3 separate regions of the Homo sapiens genome follow, and regions 1 and 2 are each linked to region 3. Evidence: fine-mapped expression QTL. A gene starts in region 3. Each other region holds a variant in brackets. All regions are shown on one strand. Distances are between the middles of the regions.

Region 1 (8,179 bases), 23 kb before region 3:
GCCATGGGGGGACATGAGAGGATTTTTAGGAATGATGGTAATGTTTTCTATATTGATGGGCATTGGGATTACACAGGGGCACCTATTAGTTGAAACTTAGTGAATATACACTTAAGATTTGTGCACTTCATTGTCTACAAATTTTACATCAAAAGAAAACACTAAAGGCCAGGTGCAGTGGCTCACGCCTGTAATCCTAGCACTTTAGGAGGCCAAGGTAGGAGGATCACTTGAGGTCAGGAGTTTGAGACCAGCCTGGCCAACATGGTGAAGCCCCGTCTCTACTAAAAATACAAAAATTAGCAGGGCATGGTGGCGCATGCCTGTAATCCCAGCTACTTGGGAGGCTGAGGCAGGAGAATCACTTGAATTTGGGAGGCGGAGGTTGCAGTGAGCCAAGATCGCACCACTGCACTCCAGTGTGGGCAACAGAGACTCCGTCTCAAAAAAAAAAAAAAAACTATAAACAAATATTGATCTCTAATCAATGATGTACACACTGATGTATTTAGGGAGAAGTATACTGGTGTCCACAGTTACTTTGAAACACATCCAAAAGAATAGATTAATGGCTATAGGGATGGATAATGGATAAATATGAGATAAAGCAGGTAAAATGTTAATGGCAGAATCTAGGTAGTAGATGTACAAGTAGACAGTGAAATTCTGTCAACTTTTCTTTTCTCTTTTTTTTTTTTTTTTTTTTTTGAGATGGAGTTTCACTCTTGTTGCCCAGGCTGGAGTGCGATGGCGTGATCTCAGCTCGCTGCAACCTCTGCCTCCTGGGTTCAAGCAATTCTCCTGCCTCAGCCTCCCGAGTAGTTGGGATTACAGGCATGAGCCACCACACCTGGCTAATTTTTTGTATTTTTAATAGACAGCGTTTCTCCATGTTGGTCAGGCTGGTCTCAAACTCCTGACCTCGGGTGATCCACCCACCTCGGCCTCCCAAAGTATTGGGATTACAGGCGTGAGCCACTGCGCCAGGCCCAACTTTTCTTTATGTTTAAAATTGTTCACAATAACATGTTGGGGCTATCAGCTGGCATTGTCTTGGCCAACTTCTTTAACCTGTAACTGGTTGCCACACTTTCTACCCCTCCTTGCCTCATGGCCAGAGTGCTTCACTCATTTACATTACCTAGAGTGTTTCATCCTAGACACATACTGCATATCCTAATGATTGTTAACTAAATCTCTGGAAGAAGCAGAATAGCATTGTAACAATTCTACTATTTACCAGTTTTGTAATCTCGGGAATTTTTTTTTTTTTTTTTTTTTTTTTTTTTTGAGAAGGCGTCTCACTCTGTCGCCCAGGCTGGAGTGCAGTGGCCTGATCTCGGCTCACTACAAGCTCTGCCTCCTGGGTTCAAGTGATTCTTCTACCTCAGCCTCCCAAGTAGCTGGGATTACAGGTGCATACTATCACGCCTGGCTAATTTTTGTATTTTTAGTAGAGATGGGGTTTCACCATGTTGGCCAGGCTGGTCTTGAACTCCTGACCTCAGCTGATCCACCTGCCTCAGCCTCCCAAAGTTCTGGGATTATAGGCATGAGCCACCACACCTGGCCGTGACCTTGGGAAAATTAATTCTCCTCTGAGCCTCGGTTTCCTCATCTGCAGGACGAAGTGAGATGGTGAATGCAAAGTTCCTGGCACACTGGTTGGCACCAGATATATGTTAACTACTGTTAAACAGTTTAATATATTGACTTCGTAAATGCACACAGATAAAATGATGACTGATTTTCACAGTAAGAAACTCCTGAGAGTTTAGACTCACAAGCTAAAGATGGGAATACTGTTTTCCTAAAAATTGCTCTACTTGCTTTCACTACATTTCCTCTCACATAGGAGAAGCTACCTTTATTCAACCCTGTTTAACAAGCACCTACTACTACAAATACTAGGTGAACCTGTGGGCTAAGCACAGTCTCTGCTATAGCGGAGCCACAGGGGTAACTGCAATAATACATGTACGTTCAAGCTGCAGTGACAGCAAGAAAAGCTTCCAGAAAGAGGCAACACTTGAGTTGGGTCTTGCAGGATGAATAGGGATTTTCCAGATAGACCTGGGGAAGGAGGCCTGTCTAGGCACAAAGAACAGCATGTGCAAAGGCATTGAGCAATAACAGAGCAATGGAATCCTCAGAGTTAACAGGCAGTTTGTATTATGAGCAACCAGGGAAGTAGACGAGGCCAGCAAGGGAGGTAGGAACCAAATCATGCCCTGTTTGCCATGCTACAAGAGTTTGGATTTTGCGCTGCAGATAAAGAACCACCAGCATAGTTTAGGAAGATACTTCTACAGCAGAATGGGGCTACACTGACAAGAGAGAGACCTGAAGCAAGGCCAGCCAGGTACTAGTGCTACCCACTGCTCAGAAGAATTGCCTGGGGTACTTGTTAAGTATACAGATTGCAAGGCCCCCTCCAGACCTGCTGAGTCTAGGGGAAGGGCCTGGGAACCTATATGATTAACAGGCATCCCAGGTTTTCTAACAACCAAGAAAACACAGAGTGTAGGAGATTGCGGCCACCATCCTCCGTAGGAGAATAAAGGGAAAGGGGGAGGGGCATGTTACTGTGTAATTAGGGGAAGGAATCTGCATAATGTGGTCAAAGTGTTGTGTGCCAGGGTGAGGAAAGCCTGGCATGACTGCGTAGATAGTTGTACCATTTACCAAGACAGGGAATGCAAGAGAAACAGCAAGTTTAGGGAAAATAAATCATGATTTATTTTTGACAAGGAATTGATCAAAACGTTGGCTCTCAAAGTGTTGTCTTGGCAATGATAAAAACTATTGGTGGTCGCAGCTCCCAGATGCACTTATTTTCTCTTGTGCTTCTCACACAAATCTGTGACTTGAATGGCTCACATCTTCCAACCGTGTTGAGTTATAATCGGGACAATAAATTACACACATAATGTTTGGAAATAGACAAACAGAAAACTAAACATTCCCTAGGTCTCTAAAGCCCAGTGCATGACACAGCCAAGATTTTTGCCTCCTGCCTTTTGACTTAATCCAGGGACAGGGTTGATGGGTAGCATTGACAGGCCCCAGAAGAAACTCAGTCTCTCATATATTTATTCCCTTTGTCCTGTTGGTGCTATTTAGGGAACAAACACTTCCCCTTTAAAGGTGGTAATCTTAAAAATAGGAAGACAGCATGAAAAATGTGTTAGTTGTCAGAAAACCTGGGTTACAGTCACATGGAGTTTGCCAACTTAACCCAACCTCTTGGAACCTCCTTCTCCTCTTTGTAAAATAAGGATAATAATAACTACTGTAAAGAACAAATGAGAAAACAAACTTTAAAATGTGTCCAAGGGCCGGGCACAGTGGCTCACGCCTGTAACCCCAGCACTTGGAGGCCGAGGCAGGCGGATCACCTGAGGTCGGGAGTTCGAGACCAGCCTGACCAACATGGAGAAACCCTATCTCTACTAAAAATACAAAATTAGCCGGGCGTGGTGGTGCATGCCTGTAATCCCAGCTACTCCAGAGGCTGAGGCAGGAGAATTGCTTGAACCCGGGAGGCGGAGGTTGCGGTGAGCCGAAATCGTGCCACTGCACTCCAGCCTGGGCAACAAAAGGGAAACTCTGTCTCAAAATAAAATAAAATGAAATAAAATAAAAAGTGTCCAAAACTCTGCTCCAGGCTGTAAAGAACAGAAACCAACTCCCAGGAGCTCAAGTCAAAAGAGAGTTGATGGAAACATTACAACAGGCAATCTCGCCAACTTGCAAGAACAGGCAATGCAGGACAGCTTGTCACTCAGGAACTGGAGCTGGAAGCCTGACGCTGCTCCCACTGCAGCACTCTCTCTGGGGCCATATGGTCTGCATCTCTGCTTCCCTCTATGGGTCCACGCACTCCCACATGGCAGACGTGGCAGTTGTCTATCCACCATCCATTCCCCTTCCTC[C/T]CTCACTAACAGAACCTCCATTGGATGAGGATGGTCTAAGCCAGTTATGCAACCTATTGCCCACTCTCCCAGCCTTCTTTACACCTAACGGTGGCCATGGATATGATTCTGGTCAATGAGGCTCAAGGAGAAGACTGCTGGGAACTCTGAAAAACCTCACTTTTCCTACCAAAGAGAAAGAAAGACACTGCTTGGCACCCTCTCTCCCTTTTCCTTCCTTTTGCTTGTGACTGCTAGAGCAGCAGCAACCATCATGGAACCATCGGGAGAAGGACAAAAGAACTGGGAAGACAGAAGTCAGCCCTGGACATTGCTGAGCATCCAACCAATATTAGCAAATTTTATGTGTAAAATTACAACACCAAAAAAAAAACCTCACTCCTATGTTTTTAAGCCACTGGGAGTTAGATTTTTGTTACTAGCAGCTGAAGGCACTCTTGATTAATAATACGATCATCTAATTTGGGGTCTTCCAAACTTCCATCATCCTCAAACCACCTTCAGCATTTTTGCCATGCCTGCTCAAATACCATGTTCTTCTTTAAATTGAGTCACTTTTATTAACGTGACTTAAAATAAATATGTAATGATTTAAATTAAAATAGATTCACCATGAATCACCCAAAACCATCCCATTTTTACCAATGGAACACTTTGCAAAAGCAAACCCAGCTCCAGCTATGTCCCTGATGCCCCCACCCTCAATTCCCAGGAGGGAAGGCTCTGGAGCAGGGTCTTCCCCGACTCACATGGCACCTAGGCCCACACACACCTCAGGAACTCTACAGAGATGGAGATGATCAGCAGGTCTGCTGAATAGTAAGACTTACACAGGATTTGTGGTAGTAGTATTAAATGGTCTCATTTCAAAACTAAGATGTTTGCATTTATTTCTAGGGATAAATTAGGGAATACTGGGCAGTCCTTTTTTGTGTTGGTGCAGAGAAAGCTATGTGGCTGGGGAGGAAACAGGAATACCCAGGCCAGCTGTTACCACTGGTCCAGCAAAAGCAGGAAGCTCCTTCAGATGTTCCTGAACACTTTGCTCCGCCCACCTCCCAGCATTCTCTGCTTAGTGTCCATTCAATTATGACAATAACATTTGAAGTCAGTGGAGAAAAGAGAGGTTATGCAACATGTGGTGATAGGATAGTTGGGAAATTATTAGGAAAAAATAGTTATATCCCGAACTCACTCCACTCATACACAGATGCAAAAAAAAATCAGATGGACGAAAGCCTTAAATATAAAAGAATTTATCCATAAACTATGCTACATTCATACAATAGACTATTGTGCAGCAGTCAGTTAGAAAAGGAAGAAGTAAATATATATGTACTGACAAGGAACTATCTAATGTTCAATGAAAAGCAGATTATAGGCCAGGCATGGTGGCTCACGACTATAATCCCAACACTTTGGGAGGCCAAGGCGGGCAGATCACTTCAGGTCAGGAGTTTAAGACCAGTCAGGCCAACGTGGTGAAACCCTATCTCTGCTAAAAATACAAAAATTAGCCAGGTTTGGTGGCCTATGCCTGTAATCGCAGCTACTAGGGAGGCTGAGGCAGGAGAATCACTTGAACCCAGGAGGTGGAGGTTGCAGCGAGCGAAAATCACACCATTGCACTCCAGCCTGGGCAACTAGACTCTATCTCAAAAAAAAAACCAAATTATAAATAACATACATAGAATGATACCATTTATGTTACATGTGTGCATAGATACCCATATGAACATATGAAAGAAATGCATGAATAGAGTCTGAAAGGATAAATCTTAATTGGGTAACAGTCATTCTTTTTTTCATGGAAATGCAGAATTATTTACTTATTAGTTGCATAAGATCAGCTGTTCTATTTAAGTTCACCAAAAAAAAAAAGTATTTCTCATCATCCCTCTTTTTCTCCTCTCTGCTTTTGAAGAGTGTATGAGGGCATTATGAGGAGACAAAGTGATTACATTCAAGGATGTCATTAGGATATAATCATATATTGCCACATATTGCCCATCTAATTTTAAAAAGCGGAAAAGAACAAAACTTAATGAAAAAAGCTGAACTACAAAGTAATAGAGAAAACATGAAAGAATGTTTTATAATTTTAATGTGGTAATCAGCTCTCTTAGCAATATGTCAAAGACAAAGCCATAAGAAAAGAAAAAGATTGACAAATGTGAAACTAAAATCTCTATATGGCAAAGCAAAAGACAATAAAATGGAAAGAAAACATTCGCAACATGATGGAGAAAAAGTACTATTATTAAACTGTGAATTGTTTGGAAATAATAAGAAAATTACAAACCCAGTAGGAAAATGAGTAAAAGGCATAAAGAAGCACTCTATTTTAAAAGAAGACACAAAAATGTCCAAAATTCACACTCAAGATGTTCAACTTCACTAATAATTACAGAAAAGCAAATTAAAATGAGATATTGGCCAAGCACAGTAGCTCACGCCTATAATCCCAACACTTTGGGAGGCTGAGATGAGTGGATCACCTGAGGTCAGGAGTTCGAGACCAGCCTGGCCAACACAGTGAAACCCCATCTCTACTAAAAACACAAAAAATTATCCGGGTGTGGTGGTGGGTGCCTGTAATCCCAGCTACCTGGGAGGCTGGAGCAGGAGAATCACTTGAACCCAGGATGCAGAGGTTGCAGTGAGCCTAGATCGCACCATTGCACTCCAGCCTGGGCAACAAGAGCAAAACTCTGTCTCAAAAAAAAATTAAATTAAAAATAAATAATAAATAAAATGAGATATCATTTTTCACTTAGATGGAGACAATTAAAAAGATTTCTAGTAGCCAGTTGTTGGCAAGGGCGGGACAGAAACAGGTGCACTTCCATTCTGTTGATGGAAGCCTAAACTGGCTTCAGCAGGCAAACTTGGAAGATAAGTATCAAAAGTTGAAATGCGCAGGCATGTTGCCCTCTTCTAGGAATTTAAGAAAAGAATGGTGCACGGTGCAAAGTTGTGTGAACAAGAAGGGTTATTGTACTGAAAAGTTAGAAACAGCCTGAATGCCCATCAACAGGGTTTTGGTTAAATAAATTTATGAGACTCGGAGGTGTTATGGAGACCAGGCAGGTGTTATAAAAGATAAAGAACATCTTTACATATTGACACAAAGCACATAAATGTTCACATGAGAAAAACAGCTTACACAGTTCCACATATCAAGTGATCCTCTTTTGTTTAATATATAACCTACTGGTAAGGCTGACACTTAACAGTTGTTATCCCTGCAGGTTAGAATTTGAGGGAAATTTTCTTTTATCTTTTTTCTTTTTTCTTTTTCTTTTTTTTTGAGACGAAGTTTCGCTCTTGTTGCCCAGGCTGGAGTGCAATGGCAGGATCTCGGCTCACCGCAACCTCTGCCTCCTGGGTTCAAGTGGTTCTCCTGCCTCAGCCTCCCAAGTAGCTGGGATTACAGGCATGTTCCACCATGCCCAGTTAATTTTGTATTTTTAGTAGAGACAGGGTTTCTCCATGTTGGCCAGGCTGGTCTCAAACTCCTGATCTCAGATGATCCACCCGCCTCGGCCTCCCAAAGTGCTGGGATTACAGGCGTGAGCCACCACATCTGGCCAGAAATTTTCTATATTACTGAAACTTTTTACAAACAGCATGTGTCATTTGTATGATAACAAAAGTGAAGATTTCATTTTGAAAATCTAAGGAAGGGATATGCTATTTATGCTGTCCTTTAAGGATTTATTTACCCTTTCGTTTGTTCAACAAATATGAACAGTTTATTACATAGAAGGTAGTGCCTCCAGGACTGAGGTAGAAACAAAAGACAATCGGACCTAAGCCTCTCTCTGCTTCCTGAAACCAAACCAATATTATCACTGCCCCCACCTGACACGCAGACACACAGACACACACACACACACACACACACACACACATACATACATACATACATACGTGCCTTCCTTCTGCCACAAATAAGTTGGTGTCCCTTGGCCACTCCAAACCCAATCCCAACACCTGCATCCTAGAGTCTATCTCCCCATCATTTTTCAGAAGCCTCACACTATTCATTTTTTTCTTTCTTTCTTTCTTTCTTTCTTTCTTTCCTTTCTTTCCTTTTTCTTTCCTTTCTTTCCTTTCTTTCTTTCTCTTTCTTTCTTTCCAACTTTTCCCTCTCTCTTGCATCCACCTAGTCAGCAATGAAAACCTCTTAAGTCTCTTTCATTCTAAATAAAAAGAAGGGAGGGAAGGAAGGCCATTCTGGA
Region 2 (8,179 bases), 220 kb after region 3:
ATGAGGGCTGGGCCCGGCCCAATGGGAGGGGCCTGAGGGGCCATTCTGTGGTCATCTTCGGGGTTCTCTGCACACCAGGGAGCCAACCACCAGGCAACCCTGGGGCCACCTCAGGATGTGGGCTCTCACCTCCCTGCACCTGAGCTGAGTTTGGAGAAGGGAAGGAGAAATGGAGGGAGGCTGGCTTCCTACAAAAGGGGATTGGGTCAGCTCAGACCAGGGCCAAGTCAGAGTTTGGGGTCATTGCTGGGGCTGGAGTCGTAACCCTAACTGGCTTGGGGCCAGTGTTGGATTGGGGACTGGGCATTAGGATTAGCATTGAGGTAGGGTCACATTAGGCGTTAGATTTGGCTTTGGGATTGGGGTCAGAGTTGTGTTTCGGTATTAGATTTGAAGCTGAGGTCAGAGTGAGTCTTGAGGCCAGTGTTAGGTTTCAGGCGGTATCAGATTTGACCTTGAGGCTGGGGTCAGAGTAGGGTTAGGTTGGGGATTAGCATTGGGATTGGGTTTGGGTTCAGTTTTGGTGCCGGGGTAGATCTGATGGTGGATCTGGTTAGGTTAGAGCTAGGTTTTGGCTTGCATTGGGAGTGGGGACTAGGGGAGGTGCATAGCTTCCAGCCACCCCTTTCTCTTCCAGAACTTCATCAAAGCCAAGCAGTACCCACCAAGCACACAGGTGGAGGTGCAGAATGATGGGGCTGAGTCGGCCGTCTTTCAGCAGCTCTTCCAGAAGTGGACAGCGTCCAACCGGACCTCAGGCCTAGGCAAAACCCACACTGTGGGCTCCGTGGGTGAGGGCCAGGCGGGGGCAGTGAGGGAGCCAGGATCCAGGAGCTGGGCCAGGAGAGCCACTTGGTCCACCACCCACCCTCCTTCCCTGACGTGCATCTTCAACGAAGACTTTTACGCTGGCTCTGGGCTTGTCCTAGCAGATGGGGACGTGGACAAACTCTAGTTGTCACAAAAAGGGAGCTGAGAGGGCTGGGCATGGTGGCACATGCCTGTAATCCCAGCACTTTGGGAGGCTGAGGCGGGTGGATCACCTGAGGTCAGGAGTTTGAGATTAGCCTAACATGGTGAAACCCCGTCTCTACTGAAAAAAAGAACTAATAAATTAGCCAAGCATGGTGGTGCATGCCTGTAACCCCAGCTACTCAGAAGGCTGAGGCTGGAGAATCGCTTGAATTCAGGAGGCAGAGGCTGCAGTGAGCCAAGATCATGCCATTGCACTCCAGCCTGGGCAACAAGAGCGAAACTCCATCTCAAAAAAAAAAAAAAAAAAAAAAGGGGAGCTGTCAGTGATGTGATATTTCATTTGGGATGGGGTTGGGCCTCCCTGAAAACCGAACAGCTTCAGTCTCTTACCAGCCAGTATTTGCTGAGGGCAAGCTCGGTGCCCAGCACCTAGGAGAGGACAAGTAATAGTGTACAGCCCCCAACATTGCACAGCTCCCTATTGAGCTGGGAGACAAGGTCAAGGCTTGAAGTCTGAATGCTGCAGGGGTCAGGACGTAGATCAACAAAGCTAAAGCCTTGCTCTTATGCCTCTCCTGGCTCCCTGGGAGCAGGAGTTTTAGAGGGAGGGAGATGTGGTTCTCTATTGTAGCTCTGCCACATTCTGTGCAACCAGGTAAGCTACTGAATCTCTCTTGCCTCGGTTTCCTCATCTGAAAATGAGTCTAAGAATTGTAGCCACCATTCAGGGCTGTTGTGAGGACCTGGGAGACCTCAGCTGGTGACAGTTGGTTTCATGATTTCCCCCACTCTAGCCAAAGTGGAACAGGTGAAGTTCGATGCCACATCCATGCATGTCAAGCCTCAGGTGGCTGCCCAGCAGAAGATGGTAGATGATGGGAGTGGGGAAGTGCAGGTATGTGAGGGCAGAGAGGCCCGTGCTGGGTGGAGCAGGAATGGTGGAGCCTGTCCTGGACCTCACCCTGGCCTGATACTGGCCCTAGGTGTGGCGCATTGAGAACCTAGAGCTGGTACCTGTGGATTCCAAGTGGCTAGGCCACTTCTATGGGGGCGACTGCTACCTGCTGCTCTACACCTACCTCATCGGCGAGAAGCAGCATTACCTGCTCTACGTTTGGCAGGTCAGGTCCCGCCACGTCCCACCCAGAGCACAGCCGGCTTAGCTCTGCCTTGTACATACTCCTGCTAAGTGGCCATCACCCTTGGGTTGAATACCTCTGGGGATGGGGTGCTCACCCCTTCAAGAAGGACTGCTTTGGCTATGAGGTCCCGCTAGTACCCCCATTCACAGCCCTTTTCCTTTTGGTTCTCTGAGTCTCCCTTCCAATTTTCATTGCCTTCTGCACATTCTTGTCACCTGCTCTGCCCATGGGTTTTTGTGTCTAGATGCGAGGGAGCAGGGAGTGTGTCTAGGACTGAGTGGTGTGGTGCCTGTGATGTCTCCCTGAAGAAGGAGCAGAAAGGAAAGGAGGAGGTTTGGGGTTAAGGCTGGGGTTGCAGGTAGGTCAGGGCTGGGCTGGGTCTGGGAAAGAATTAGGTTTGAGGTTGAGATCAGAACTGAGGTATGGTTCAGATTGGGGTTTTGGCTGTTTCACAGTGGAGTTTGGTGGGGAAGACAATTGGGTTTAGGACCAGTTCAGACTTGAGGATGGAGTTGTTGCTGAGGCTGAGGATGGGGTCAGAATTGGGGGCTGACCCAATCCCACTCACTCCCTCCTGCTCATCCCCAGGGCAGCCAGGCCAGCCAAGATGAAATTACAGCATCAGCTTATCAAGCCGTCATCCTGGACCAGAAGTACAATGGTGAACCAGTCCAGATCCGGGTCCCAATGGGCAAGGAGCCACCTCATCTTATGTCCATCTTCAAGGGACGCATGGTGGTCTACCAGGTGTGGCTGCTGAACTGAGGTGTCTGGCAGTAACCACTGTGGCAAGACAGGCATCCGGGAGATGGAGAAGGGGATGGGTGGTGGGAGCAGGGCTTGAGGTGAAGCCCATTCTTCATAGGAGACTACCCTGGAGGTTCTATCACCTATGTGGAACTGGTAATAGAAACAACCCATTTGGTTACTTTAGAAATACGTGTAATTGGGCCGGGCATGGTGGCTCACGCCTGCAATCCCAGCACTTTGGGGGGCTGAGGCGGGTGGATCACCTGAAGTCAAGAGTTCAAGACCAGCTTGACCAACATGGTGAAACCCCATCTCTACAAAAATACAAAAATTAGCCAGGCATGATGGTGGGTGCCTGTAATCTCAGCTACTCAGGAGGCTGAGGCAGAAGAATCTCTTCAACCTGGGAGGCGGAGGTTGCAGTGAGCCGAGATTGTGCCAATGCACTCCAGCCTGGGCAACAGAGGGAGACTCCATCTTTAAAAAAAGAAAAAAAAAAAATGCCGGTTGCGGTGGCTCTCACCTGTAATCCCAGCACTTTGAGAGGCTGAGGTGGGTGGATCACCTGAGGTCAGTAGTTCAAAATGAGGGCATGCAATGCAGGGGGCACAGCAAGGACAAGGGCCTGGGGGAGAGGCTCCCTGGGGAACATCAGAAGCCTGGTGGAACTGGCCAGGCATGGTGGTTCACGCCTGTAATCCCAGCACTTTGGGAGGCAGAGGTGGGTGGATCACCTGAGGTCAGGAGTTCGAGAGCAGCCTGGCCAACATGGCAAAACTCTGTCTCTACTAAAAATACAAAAATTAGCCAAACGTGGTAGTGCACACTTGTAATCCCAGCTACTGGGGAGGCTGGGGCAGGAGAATGGCTTGAACCTGGGAGACGCTGAGTCAGGATCACACCATTGCACTCCAGCCTGGGCAACAGAGCGAGACTCCGTCTCAAGGAAAAAAAAAAAAAGGCTAGGCGCTGTGGCTCACAACTGTAATCCCAGCACTTTGGGAGGCCAAGGCGGGCGGATCTCCTGAGGTTGGGAGTTCGAGACCAGCCTGACCAACATGAAGAAACCCCGTCTCTACTAAAAATATAAAAATTAGCCGGGCGTGGCAGTGGGTGCCTACAATCCCAGCTACCCAGGAGGCTGAGGCAGGAGAATTGCTTGAACCCAGGAGGCAGAGGGTGCAGTGAGCTGAGATAGTGCCATTGCACTCCAGCCTGGGGAACAAGAGCAAAACTCCGTCT[C/CA]AAAAAAAAAAAAAAAGCCTGGCAGAGCTAGCTGGAGGGTTTGATGGCAGCAGTGTCTGCAAAGGCAGTTTGCATCTTCGTCATGTGGGGCCTTCAAAGGCAAAGCTGAGGAGCTGGGCTTTAGGCTAGAAGCAATGGGGAGTCACTGAACATTTTTGAAAAGAGAAACGCTGTGATGCAAACAATGTTTTAGAAAGACCTGGTGACGGAGCATCAGAGGAGCTCAGGGGCAAACCTCCCCGCCCTACCCTATCCCCCTCTGTTCCCCATCATCTTCTTTACTAAGTGACTCCTGACTCTCTCTCCCTGTCTTCTGCCCTCACCTGCAGGGAGGCACCTCCCGAACTAACAACTTGGAGACCGGGCCCTCCACACGGCTGTTCCAGGTCCAGGGAACTGGCGCCAACAACACCAAGGCCTTTGAGGTCCCAGCGCGGGCCAATTTCCTCAATTCCAATGATGTCTTTGTCCTCAAGACCCAGTCTTGCTGCTATCTATGGTGTGGGAAGGTGTGTTCAGGGTCTAGAGGCCTCCCCATCCGCAAGTGGGTCCTGGGAGTCCCCCAGTTTCGCAGCAGCCCTAGGTCAGGGCAGGAACCCCTGGCCAACTAAGTTGTGCCTGCTCAATTCTCAGCCGCCTCTGGAGCCCAGTCTCTCCCTCCTCAGTAGCTCTGGGTCTATCCTTCTGCCTCATCAATGACCATCCTCAGATTCTCTGCCTCTCTGTCGGAGTCAGTCTCTCTTGTTCTGTTTCTCTGGCCACCTCCATCTGTCCCTGTGTTGGTCTGTCTTTATGTCTTGGGCTCTCTCTCACTACCCTGAGCCTGTCACTGCCTCTCCTTTGATCTCTGTAAGAAGAATGCATAGCCTCTTGGAGTCCCTCTCGAACCTTGAAAAGACTCTCTAGTTTCTTCTGCTATTCTTTGGAGTGTCAAGGACAGAAGAAAGCATGGAATTGTCCCTGTGTGGCCTGTATACACAAGGTCCTGACCCAGGAGAGCCCTCTTTGACCCCTGAACTCTGGGCAGTGAATGTAGTAGGAGGGTGGAGGTAGGGGTGGCACTAGAAATTAGCCAACTCTTTTTTTTCCTAGGGTTGTAGCGGGGACGAGCGGGAGATGGCCAAGATGGTTGCTGACACCATCTCCCGGACGGAGAAGCAAGTGGTGGTGGAAGGGCAGGAGCCAGCCAACTTCTGGATGGCCCTGGGTGGGAAGGCCCCCTATGCCAACACCAAGAGGTAACTCTCAGGTCCCTCCGCCTCCAGGTTACCAAGGTGGGGGAGCCGCCCAGCATCTCCATCCCTACACCCAGAGCCTACAGCAGGCATGGACTGAGGACTCTGTGTGTCAGGCACTGTGCCAGACCCCCAGGGCTACAAGATGAATAAAGGGCAGCCCATACCCTTGGAGCCTCTTGGCACAGGGGCTGTGTCTGTGCTGCTCACTACAGTATGCCCAGGACCTGGTGGGGTATTTCCTTGGCAAAGGGAATTCCTGGCCATAGGAGGCAGCTCAAAGCAAGGGGCAGGGCTAGAGGTTTGCCTTTCAGTAACAAGATGCCAGAGGCCAGCCTGCTTTTAGGTCCTGACACAGGCCTGGGATGCTGAGGAGCCCCAGCCACAAGCCCTCTTTCAAATGGTTTTGTTTTGTTTTTGTGACAGAGTCTCGCTCTGTCAACTAGGCTGGAATGCAGTGGTGCAATCTCAGCTCACTGCAGCCTCTGCCTCCGCCTCCCAGGTTCCAGCAATTCTCCTGCTGCAGCCTCCTGCGTAGCTGAGATTACAGGCGCCCACCACCGTGCCCGGCTAATTTTTGTATTTTTAGTAAAGACAGGGTTTCACCATGTTGGCCAGGCTGGTCTTGAACTCCTGACCTCAGGTGATCCACCTGCCTCAGCCTCCCAAAATGCTAGGATTACAGGTGTGGGCCACGGTGACTGGCTCAAATGGTTTTTCTAGAGAATATCCATGATCTACTAGTCCCTAGTTCAAAAGCAAAAGGGCATGTACTGTAGTAGCAGTAGGAGGGATGGAGGGAAGATATCAGGAAGAACTTCCTAACAAGGCTCTGCAAAAGACACTGGAATGCATGTCCAGAAAGCAGTGACAATTTCTTCCTCAGAGCACTCTTGGAATGAGAGGGGACCCTTTTATCAATCAGAAGATAGAGCATTTTGCTGGAGATGACCTTTCTATGCCAGAGTCCCTTCCTCAGAGTTCTGTGTCCTCAATTCTCCTTTTGCCACACCTTCCTTCTGCCAGTACAATCTTCTCTCCATCCTGCAGACTACAGGAAGAAAACCTGGTCATCACCCCCCGGCTCTTTGAGTGTTCCAACAAGACTGGGCGCTTCCTGGCCACAGAGATCCCTGACTTCAATCAGGATGACTTGGAAGAGGATGATGTGTTCCTACTAGATGTCTGGGACCAGGTAGGACCAAGGGCCTGGGGACCCCTCTTCCCAGCCACCTCAATCCCCAGGGCCAAGAAAGAGTGGCTTTAAGGTTAGGTAAGTGTCAATGTTTTCTTGGCCCTTACATAATTTCTCCCTGGAAATGGTATGAACACCAGAAGTGTAAGAAAGAAGGAAGGTGGGGAGGAACATGCTCAGAGGGGCTGCAGGGAAGAACGTATTCTCTCCCAAAGTCCTATTTATTTCACATGGCAGCAGGAGTGTTTTTGAGAATCCTGGGCTTTGGACAGTCTGGGAGACACACATTTGCAGAATATCCAAGTACAAGGCATCTGTCCAACCTTCTAATTTCCCAGATACAAATTCAAGGCCAGATGATGCCTGCCCTAGGTCATTTGGCTGGTAGTGGTAGAGTCAGGGTCAAGGTCAGGGTTTCACTGTTGGACAACTGAGGCAGAGCCCTGTGGGCCAGGGAGGACAGGAAGGATGGACTGATCCCCTGGGTTTCTCAATAGGTCTTCTTCTGGATTGGGAAACATGCCAACGAGGAGGAGAAGAAGGCCGCAGCAACCACTGCACAGGAATACCTCAAGACCCATCCCAGCGGGCGTGACCCTGAGACCCCCATCATTGTGGTGAAGCAGGGACACGAGCCCCCCACCTTCACAGGCTGGTTCCTGGCTTGGGATCCCTTCAAGTGGAGTGTGAGTGGCCTCATCCCAGCATGTCCTTCTCTAGCCCTGCCTGGAGATCAGTGCTGATTCCTGCAGGCCATTCTGTCTCTTTGGGATATATGACCTGCTGATTTAGAAAGGGGCTAGAGGAGGCTTAGAATAGAAAGTAAGGCTGCACTAAGGCCATTAGGCCTCTGGTGAGAGGGAAGAAGTCTATCAAAAACCAAGGCTAATTATAGTGCCTTGTTTGTGCACTACATTTAGAGCAAAGCTGCTGGATAGTATAGGTAAGAAATGTACTGATTACTTAAATTAAAATTAAACACAGTTCAAAATTCAGTTTGTCACTAGCCACATGTGGCAGCTGGCTACTGTGTTGGGCAGCAGAGGTGAGAATGTTCTCATCATTGCAGCAACATGGTGGATCCTCCATGCCAGCTGAAACACGTTGGTTCTAAAGGACTGACAAATGTCTTCCTGGTGCTAAATTCTAAGCAAAATGGGTCATGTGTGTGGTCCTTACCTGAGGGATGGTGTGCCAACCTCCCACGGGGTGTTTCCTAAACTGGCCCCACATAGAAGCAAGGGGCAGATACCCACAATGGAACTCCAGCAAAGGTTTTCGGTAGGAAGAAGGCCAAGGTACAGTGAAGCCTGGCCTGGTGGCTCTGGGTGCTCTAAATTGTCACAACAGATGGCTTTAGGGAAGCAGAAAGCTTAATTTCCTTAAATTTGTTGGTTTGTTTTTTTAAATTCTGCAGTTAGATGGGCTTTTAGTTTTTACTCAAGGCAGCATATCGAGATGCCAGGTTTTCTCAATCCACTTTAGTTATCACCTTTCCCTCACCTCAAGTGTGTGCTGGCTTCTCTCTCAGCCTCATTCACTCATTCATTCATTCATTCATTCAGCATAAGTGTGCTCTAGGATATGGAGATGGGACTCCTCAGAGCCATGGTCCCTTCACTCCTCTGTGGCAGGGCTCC
Region 3 (8,179 bases):
GCCCAGGAGGTTGAGGCTGCAGTGAGCTGAGGTTGCCCACTGCACTCTAGCCTGGGCAACAGAGCGATACCCTGTGTCAAAAACAAAACAAAACAAAACAAAAAGTTAAAATGGCTGAAGATAATGCAAGAAGATATTCCACAAAAATAGAAAAACAAAAAACAAACAATGGGTTGGTTTAGAGTTCAGTTTTGCAAGATGAAAAGAAGGTTCTTTTTTTGTGTTTTTTCTTTAAGACTCTGTCGTAAAGGCTAGAGTGCAGTGTCATGATCCTAGCTCACTGCAGCCTAAAACTCCTGGGCTCAAGCAATCTTCCCTGCTTATCCTCCCAAAGTACTGGGATTACAGGCATGAGCCACCATGCTCAGCTCTATGAATTTCTATTTTGAATCAGTGCTCAGTACAACAAATTAAGAAAGTGGTACAATAAAGCAAATCATTCTAAAATTTCTAACCAACAAGTTAAAGAGAGAATCCTAAGGCTTCCACAGATGGGGGAGATGTAACAGACAAAAGGATCAGAAACATGAATAGGAATTATACTTTTTTAATAGCAACCCTAGAAGGTGTAAGAAAATGTAGTATACCATCATTAAAAAGTCAGGAAACAACAGGTGCTAGAGAGGACGTGGAGAAATAGGAACACTTTTACGCTGTTGGTGGGACTATAAACTAGTCCAACCATTGTGGAAGTCAGTGTGGCGATTCCTCAGGGATCTAGAACTAGAAATACCACTTGACCCAGCCATCCCATTACTGGGTATATACCCAAAGGACTATAAATCATGCTGCTATAAAGACACATGCACACATGTTTATCGCGGCACTATTCACAATAGCAAAGACTTGGAACCAACCCAAATGTCCAACAATGATAGACTGGATTAAGAAAATGTGGCACATATATACCATGGAATACTATGCAGCCATAAAAAATGATGAGTTCGTGTCCTTTGTAGGGACATGGATGAAATTGGAAATCATCATTCTCAGTAAACTATCACAAGGACAAAAGAACAAACACTGCATGTTCTCACTCATAGATGGGAATTGAACAGTGAGAACACATGGACACAGGAAGGGGAACATCACACTCTGGGGACTGTTGTGGGGTGGGGGGAGGGGGGAGGGATAGCATTAGGAGATATACCTAATGCTAAATGACGAGTTAATGGGTGCAGCACACCAGCATGGCATATGTATACATATGTAACTAACCTGCACATTGTGCACATGTACCCTAAATCTTAAAGTATAATAATAATAAAAAAATAAATAAATAAAAAAGAAAATGTAGTATACCTTCAAAAAAAAAGGGAAAATTATTTTCAAACTTGAATATCTAGCCCAACAACACATCAAGTGTTAAATAGAAGTAACATATTTTCAAATATGCAAAGATTCTAACAACATATATCCCCCATCTCCCTTTCTTAGGAAGTTATTAGAGGAGATGCTTTAGCAAAACAAGGAAGTAAACCAAGAGGAAGACATGGGATCCAGGAAATGGGCAAAACCACCCCAGAACAACAATGAAGGAAAATTCCAGAATGACAACTGTACAGCAAGTCTAGCGAGCAGCCAGTCCAGATTGAAATAAGAGGAAGGAAGGCTCTGGGACAAAAACTCCAAAGAAAAAGTGGAACTTATATATTGAGTATATGGAAAACATTATTGCTAGACTTTTTGATAGTCTTAGAGCATTTGAGGGGAAAAACCAACTGTAAATACTGTTTACAGAAAATCAGACAGATGAGAGAAAAAAGGCAATAATTAACCCTAAGAAAAATGAAGGGCCATGTAAACTAGAAGTCATGATTATAGTGCATTTCTTGGCTCATCAGTAAACAATATTTGCATACATAATAATTTTAATACAGCTAGGTGCAGATTATTGGTTTTACCAAAAGTTATTACGCAGCTATATATGGTGGGAAGCAGAAGTGATAGAGTCAAGTTCTTATCTACCGTGTCAGGAAGTCAACACATAATGCTAAAAATTCACAAACCAAAAAATAATGGTATAAACATTTACTTAGAAACATGAAGGTAGGCCGGGCACGGTGACTCACACTTGTAATCCTAGCACTTTAGGAGGCTAAGGCAGGCGGATCGCTTGAGTTCAGGGGTTCGAGGCCAGCCGAAGCAACACGGTGAAACCCTGTCTCTACTAAAAATACAAAAATTAGCTGGACATATTGGTGGCCACCTGTAGTCCCAGCTAGTTGGGGTCTGAGGCCGGAGGATTGCTTGGGCCCAGGGAAATCGGGGCTTCAGTGAGCCAAGAGTGTGCCACTGCACACCAGCCTAAGTAACAAAGTGAAACCCTATCAGAAAGAAAGAAAGAAAGAAAAAGACAGAGAGAGAAAGAAAGAAAGAAAGAAAGAAAGAAAGAAAGAAAGAAAGAAAGAAAGGGATTATGAAGGTAAATATCAGGATGAATTTGTGAAAGAGTTGAGCATATTGCCTCCAAAGAGTAGGACAGGGAACTGCTTTTTTCATTACAAGCCTTTTAGTATTATAAGCATACATATTTTAAACAATTTATAAACATTATTTTAGTTCAATAGTCATTAATGTTACAAAGCTAGCTTATCGGTCGGGCATGGTGGCTCACGCCTGTAATCCCAGCACTTTAGGAGGCTAAGGCAGGTGGATCACTTGAACCCAGGAGTTTGAGACCAGCGTGCCCAATACGGCCAAACCCCGTCTCTACAAAATATACAGAAATTAGCCCAGCTTGGTGGTGCATGTCTATAGTCCCAGCTATTTGGCAGGCCGAGGCAGGAGGATCACCTGAGCTCGGGAGGCGGGCAGTGAGCAGAGATAGCAACGTCACTCCAGCTTGGGTGACAAGAGTGAGACACCATCTCAAATTAAAAAAAAAAAAAAAAAAAGGCCGGGCATGGTGGCTCACGCCTGTAATCCCAGCACTTTGGGAGGTCGAGGCAGGAGGATCATGATGTCAGGAGTTCGAGACCAGCCTGACCAACATAGTGAAACCCCGTCTCTACTAAAAATACAAAACATTAAAAGGGCATGGTGGCAGGCACCTTTAATCCCAGCTATTTGGGAGGCTGAGGCAGGAGAATCGCTTGAACCGGGGAGGCAGAGGTTGCAGTGAGCCGAGATCATGCCATTGCACTCCAGCCTGGGCAAGAGTGCAAGACTCTGTCTCAAAAAAAAAAAAATTTAAGTTAGCGTATAATTTTAGGGGATCAGCAATATCCTGAAGCTTATCCATAGCCCGTTAAGTAATGTTTCAAAGGGCTATCTGTGCCTTAATGATAGGAGCTAGTTTCTTGTTCATTTTTTTATCCCCATCCCCAAACACATAGCAGAAAATAAATTATTTCCTTGTATGTAGAACGGACTCAGCTAAGTTTATTATATTCTCCCCGGAGGAGGGAAAACACAAAACAAGGCACAAAGGCAGAAGGTGCAGATGTAGCACAACGATGAGTTAAGATTCCGCACGCAGGTAACAAGGAGGGTATGGTATATCTCTGCCAGAGGTACTGGAAGGTTTCAAAGGCAGAAAAAAATGTGTTCCGGACACCTGGACGCAGAATTGGAGGCATGACAGGAACACAGGGAGGCCCATCTAAGTTGCCTATTCACCCAGGTGACCTCTCTTTCATTTCTTTAATTGTCCTTTTAACAATATGGGGAATTTCACCCAAGGAAAGGGTCCTCTTCTCGCCCCAGCAGGCAAGGGGTGTTCCTCCAGCGCAAGTTCCGGCCCCAGCTGCCCCCACGTCCCACAGGTCTCCTGCCTTTTGGCACGCACACTCCTGACCACTCGCTGCTTCCGCATCCCTACTCTGATCCTCTCCCCATGCATCTCTGCCTCCTTAGACAACTGAGAATTTTATTGTCTGTTTCCTTTGCCAGACTGTAAGTTCCACGAGGGCAGGGCCTCGTCCATTTCATTTACCACTACATCCCCAGTATAGAGCAAGAGCCCATGAAAATGTTTGTTGGAGAAATGAATGCATGATGGTGTCGCTGGACAGCTATACCTGGAAAGAAAAAGAGGCACCCCCATCAAACAAGCTGGGAGCTAAGAAGCCCGCTGGGAGACGACAAGGGCGAGCTTCTTGCGAGGTTTCTGAAATGACAAGACCGGAAGAATGGAGTTGGATCTCTGGGACAAGCGGGAGAGAGAAGCTGAACAGTCAGGCAAGCCTCGGGGAATGACAGCTCCGCGGGGGACGCACTGGTAGGCGGTAGACGTAAGCGGGGTCGGTGGGAAAGTAGACGGTGGGGCGGCGGCATCACACATACGCAAGCGCAGCCTCCGTTTCCTCCGGCGCGCCTGCGCTCGCGTTCACGAGTGGTTGAAGCGGAAATGGCGCCGCGGGGCCGCGCGTCCAGGCGGCGAGCGGAAGTGGGTGTGAGAGCGGAAGTGGCCGGCTAGAGCCGGGGGCTGGGCGGGGACCGGGCTTGTCGGTGAAGCGGCAGTGGCGGCGGCGGCGGCGGCTCGGCAGGCGGGTTCAGGCTTCGGGGGCCAGGTCGGTTGGGTGGGTGGGTGTCTCCACAGTCTGCGTGCGTGGGCCAGCGCGTTCGTCTTACCCTTCCCTCCACCCCGGCCCCTCTCCCCTTCTCCCCTAACCTCCTACCCCACCCAGCCCCACTCAGGGGGCAGCAGGGCCGCTCCCTCCGTCCTTGCCTCCCTTACCCACCCTCACCGGCCCTTGTTTCTCCTTCCCCTGGGGGCAGCCGCCGCCATGATCCTGCTGGAGGTGAACAACCGCATCATCGAGGAGACGCTCGCGCTCAAGTTCGAGAACGCGGCCGCCGGGTGAGCGCGCGCCCGGGGCCGGGGGTGGCGGGGGAAGCAGAGTTGACCCCAGCTAATCCCCAATGTTGTCCAGTCCCCCAGACCTGGAGGAGAGAAATGGGGTGCCTGGCAGGGTGTAGGGGCTGCCCCAGCGGGGTAGACGTGGGAGGCGATTGGGCGCGGCCGGGCGAGGGGCAGAGATGCGTGGGGAGAGGCTCAGAGGAGGGATGCGGAAGCAGCGAGTGGTGAGGGCTGTGCGTGCCAAAGGGCAGGAGACCTGTGGGACGTGGGGGACCCTGGAGCCGGAACTCGCTCCGGAGTAGCCCCCTGCCCTCTGGGGCGAGAAGGGGACCCCTTCCCTGCGTGAAATTCCCCGGCATTGTTCTGAACCCAGAGAGAGCCTGTTTGGAATTGGGTTGGAAGGAGTTTTCAGGAATTCCCAGGACTGGAGGAGGGAAGGAGATGCAGGCCCACATCGCCACCAGCATTCTCGTTCCCCACCCCCATCTCCTTTAAAAGGAGCAGAAGAGAAGACTAAAAGCCGACCCAGTCTTAGAGCCGGAAAAACGCGATCTCTGGTTTCCCTTCCCCGAACCCTTCTGTGAGAGACACTGGGCCATTTTGTTACATATTTTTAAAGCAAAGCCAATTGTCCCTCGCTCCACACCCCTTCCTTATCTCTCCTTTGAGGTTCTAATGCTCTCTCCTCACCCACTAGCCTTTATCTGGTTATCTTGTAAATTCTTACATCAAGACCCTAGGTCTGTGATTTCTTCTGTGGTAGCCCTGGCCCAGTTACACACTTCAAAGACTCCAGAATCTATAAAGTTCTTAGATAACCTGTCTTTACGATTGGACTTTTTAAAAGATGGGCTTAGGGCATCTTTCCAAGGCAGCCTCTCTGCCAAACACAAGAATCAGTAGAAGACAATCTGCTCCTCCAAAGCTGCTTTGCTTTTCTAGTATAATATTTAAAACATGAGCTAAGGATTTTGGGTTCTAATTTTTGGTGGCCTGTGGCCAGTCCCTTTGCCTCATTTCCCTATGTATGAGCATGGGGCTTCACATCTGGGTTTCACAGTTAATAAGTGCAGACCGTTTCTGGTGAACTGGGAACTAGTAATAGGAAAGTGCTTGCAGATCCACAGATGGGAGAAGATTGGTAGAGGGGAATTTTTAAGTGGTCATAATGTACTTGTGGCTTGGAGGCATTAGAAAGTATTAACTGCCATTTAAATTGAATATATAGTATGTCCTGTCTCCTTTATAAGGCCACAGATTTTATCTGTAAAACAAAGCACTACTTTCCTTGAAGTAATACGTGTAGTGAGCAGTACTGTTTCCTGCCAGGGGCTGCAGTTGGTTATATTTGAGGCTGACTTGCTTCTTTCTTGTCTTAGCCTCTCTTACCAGTTTCTTTGCATTTTAAATATTCAAATGAATCAGCCCAGAGTCTTATTTTGGGTGATTGCTGTATACTTTTTTCTGAGCAGTGTAACACATAGGAGGAAGTTGAATTAACTTCTGCATTTTCATAACTGATCTTAATGCATTCTCAGGTCCAGACTAGCAAAGAATGAGACCTGGGCGGTTATAAGCTGATCTACAAGATAAATGGCTGTGTATTTTCAAGTAGAGGCATGTCTTTTAACATAGGAGTACATTCTCATCTATTTGTGTATTAATGACTTGTGATTCCAAAATGTGGCCCATTATTCGGAACTTCAGTTCTTTCTTTTTCTTTTAGAAAATTATTCTTAAAAAGAGAAGCTAACCATTTCGGAGGGATTAAATAGGCCCTCAAGTCTGGAAGACATAAGTTAGAACTTCCAGGACTTTTTTTTTTTTTTCCGAGACAGAGTCTCTCACTGGCTGGAATGCAGTGGCGCGATCTCTGCTCACTGCAACCTCGCCCTCCCAGGCTCAAGTGAGTCTCATGTCTCGGCTTCCCAAGTAGCTGGGATTACAAGCACGTGCTACCACACCTGGCTAATATTTGTATTTTTAGTAGAGATGGGGTTTCACCATGTTGGCCAGGCTGGTCTCAAACTCCTGGCCTCAAGTGACCCGCCCGCCTCGGCCTCCCAAAGTGCTGGGATTACAGCACTGCTCCTTTCCTCAGGACATTTTTTACAAAGATATGCATTGTAGGGAAGCTGTATAGGGGGTGCACTGGTGTGTATGCTTGTGCACATGTGCGGGTGTATGTGTGTATAAATCTAGGCTTTTATTCTGGCCCATCTCCCCCTTTGAGATGTGGTTTTCAATAAGCAGGCTCAAAACATTCTGCTGAAAATTTGAAACTTTGAAAATCTTTAAAAAAAAAGAGACCATGATATTGTGCCTGGTAGGCAGGGCTCTCCTGGGATTACAGATGTATCACCCAGTAGAAGCCCGAATGAAGCAAATGTAAATTATCAGACATTCCAGTAAGGTAAGGCAAGGTGCATGCCTATTCCAGAACTTACAGCAGAGTTTGCCTAGTGTGGTTATCATAAACATGTATGGGATTCTACCAGTGCTCAGCCCAGGCAGCAACAGAAAAAAAGGGGCCTCTCTGAGAGCCTATTAGCCAAGTTAGGGAGGTGCTAAGGGGTGAAAGGTGTTGGGGTGGAGATCAGAGAAAGACATTAAAGGGAGTAGTTTGGAGGAGAAACCCTGGAGATTTGAAAGGCTTTGCTGGTGTGGGAACCTGCTAGGAGAGGTCAGCTCCACCCTACTTTTTGCACTTCTCAGAATAAACCGATGGGGGAAATTACAGTTCGGAGCAGCCTTTTCCAGAGTGCATCTTCCATCTCTGTGATGTCCAATAAGATAGCCATACAAAGTGGCTGGCTAAATTTAAGTAAAAATTAAGTTGAAATAAAATTGAGTTCCTCGGTCACACTAGCCACATTTCTGGTGCTCATTTGCCACATGTGGCTGGTAGCTGTTGTATTTAGCACAGACATGGAACATTTCCATTATTGCAAAGTTCTATTAGCACTGTTCCAGCTTCTGAAAATGAAAGCATGAGATGGTCTTAAAAATAGTTCTGTGGCATATACTTCAGAATATAGTTGCATTAATTTTCCATTTGAAGTTGATTTTTTTTTTTTTTAATGATTCCTCTCAGATCATCCTGCTGGATCTTCTCACCAGTGGCCTCCTACTAAAAGTATCAGCTTTCTTTTGGGTAAAGCAGTGTTGTCATCTAAACTGTTTAAGAATACATTTGATCATAACCTTTTAATTTGGAGGCAGTTTGACAAAGCCTAAGGTTCATTCCAAACAGATTGCTTTTTAATTTTTTCCTACACACTTCTGGGAAGTGGCTTATTGAAACAACTCATAGATTGTCACAAAATAATAATTATTGGTAAATTGTCTTCCCAGCAGCCCACAAACTAAGAGAAT

Direction of the effects. Positions count from the first base shown, and alleles are read on the strand shown. Sizes are in standard deviations (SD) of each study's normalised expression. Not every link is listed here.
In carriers of allele T in region 1, the expression in sigmoid colon of the gene that starts at base 4,449 in region 3 tends to be higher than with C alone (small effect, 0.26 SD a copy in GTEx).

The links. PIP is the estimated chance that this variant, and not a neighbour inherited with it, causes the effect. A credible set is the group of variants that fine-mapping cannot tell apart.
Region 1: its variant is the best candidate, but not a certain one, in a credible set for the expression of ARPC2 in sigmoid colon (GTEx, PIP 0.51).
Region 2: its variant is the best candidate, but not a certain one, in a credible set for the expression of ARPC2 in naive CD4 T cells (Schmiedel 2018, PIP 0.87).

Annotation. Positions count from the first base shown.
Region 1 is chr2:218,190,085-218,198,263 of GRCh38, forward strand. No RefSeq gene overlaps it. Among named protein-coding and RNA genes, the nearest start is that of ARPC2, 23 kb to the right of the region's middle. The variant C/T (reference allele first, on the strand shown) is at 3,936.
Region 2 is chr2:218,430,088-218,438,266 of GRCh38, forward strand. VIL1 (villin 1) reads left to right here. Exons shown (of 20, transcript NM_007127.3): 10 at 638-791; 11 at 1,770-1,870; 12 at 1,959-2,096; 13 at 2,706-2,864; 14 at 4,439-4,618; 15 at 5,202-5,347; 16 at 6,395-6,539; 17 at 7,037-7,225. Among named protein-coding and RNA genes, the nearest start is that of VIL1, 15 kb to the left of the region's middle. The variant C/CA (reference allele first, on the strand shown) is at 4,110.
Region 3 is chr2:218,212,741-218,220,919 of GRCh38, forward strand. ARPC2 (actin related protein 2/3 complex subunit 2) reads left to right here and starts at 4,449. Exons shown (of 11, transcript NM_152862.3): 1 at 4,449-4,514; 2 at 4,723-4,804. The coding sequence starts at 4,731. It overlaps LOC101928487 (a long non-coding RNA gene), which reads right to left and starts at 4,446. Exons shown (of 2, transcript XR_923908.2): 1 at 4,288-4,446; 2 at 3,361-4,111. RefSeq lists an enhancer at 4,458-5,061 and a silencer at 4,583-4,632.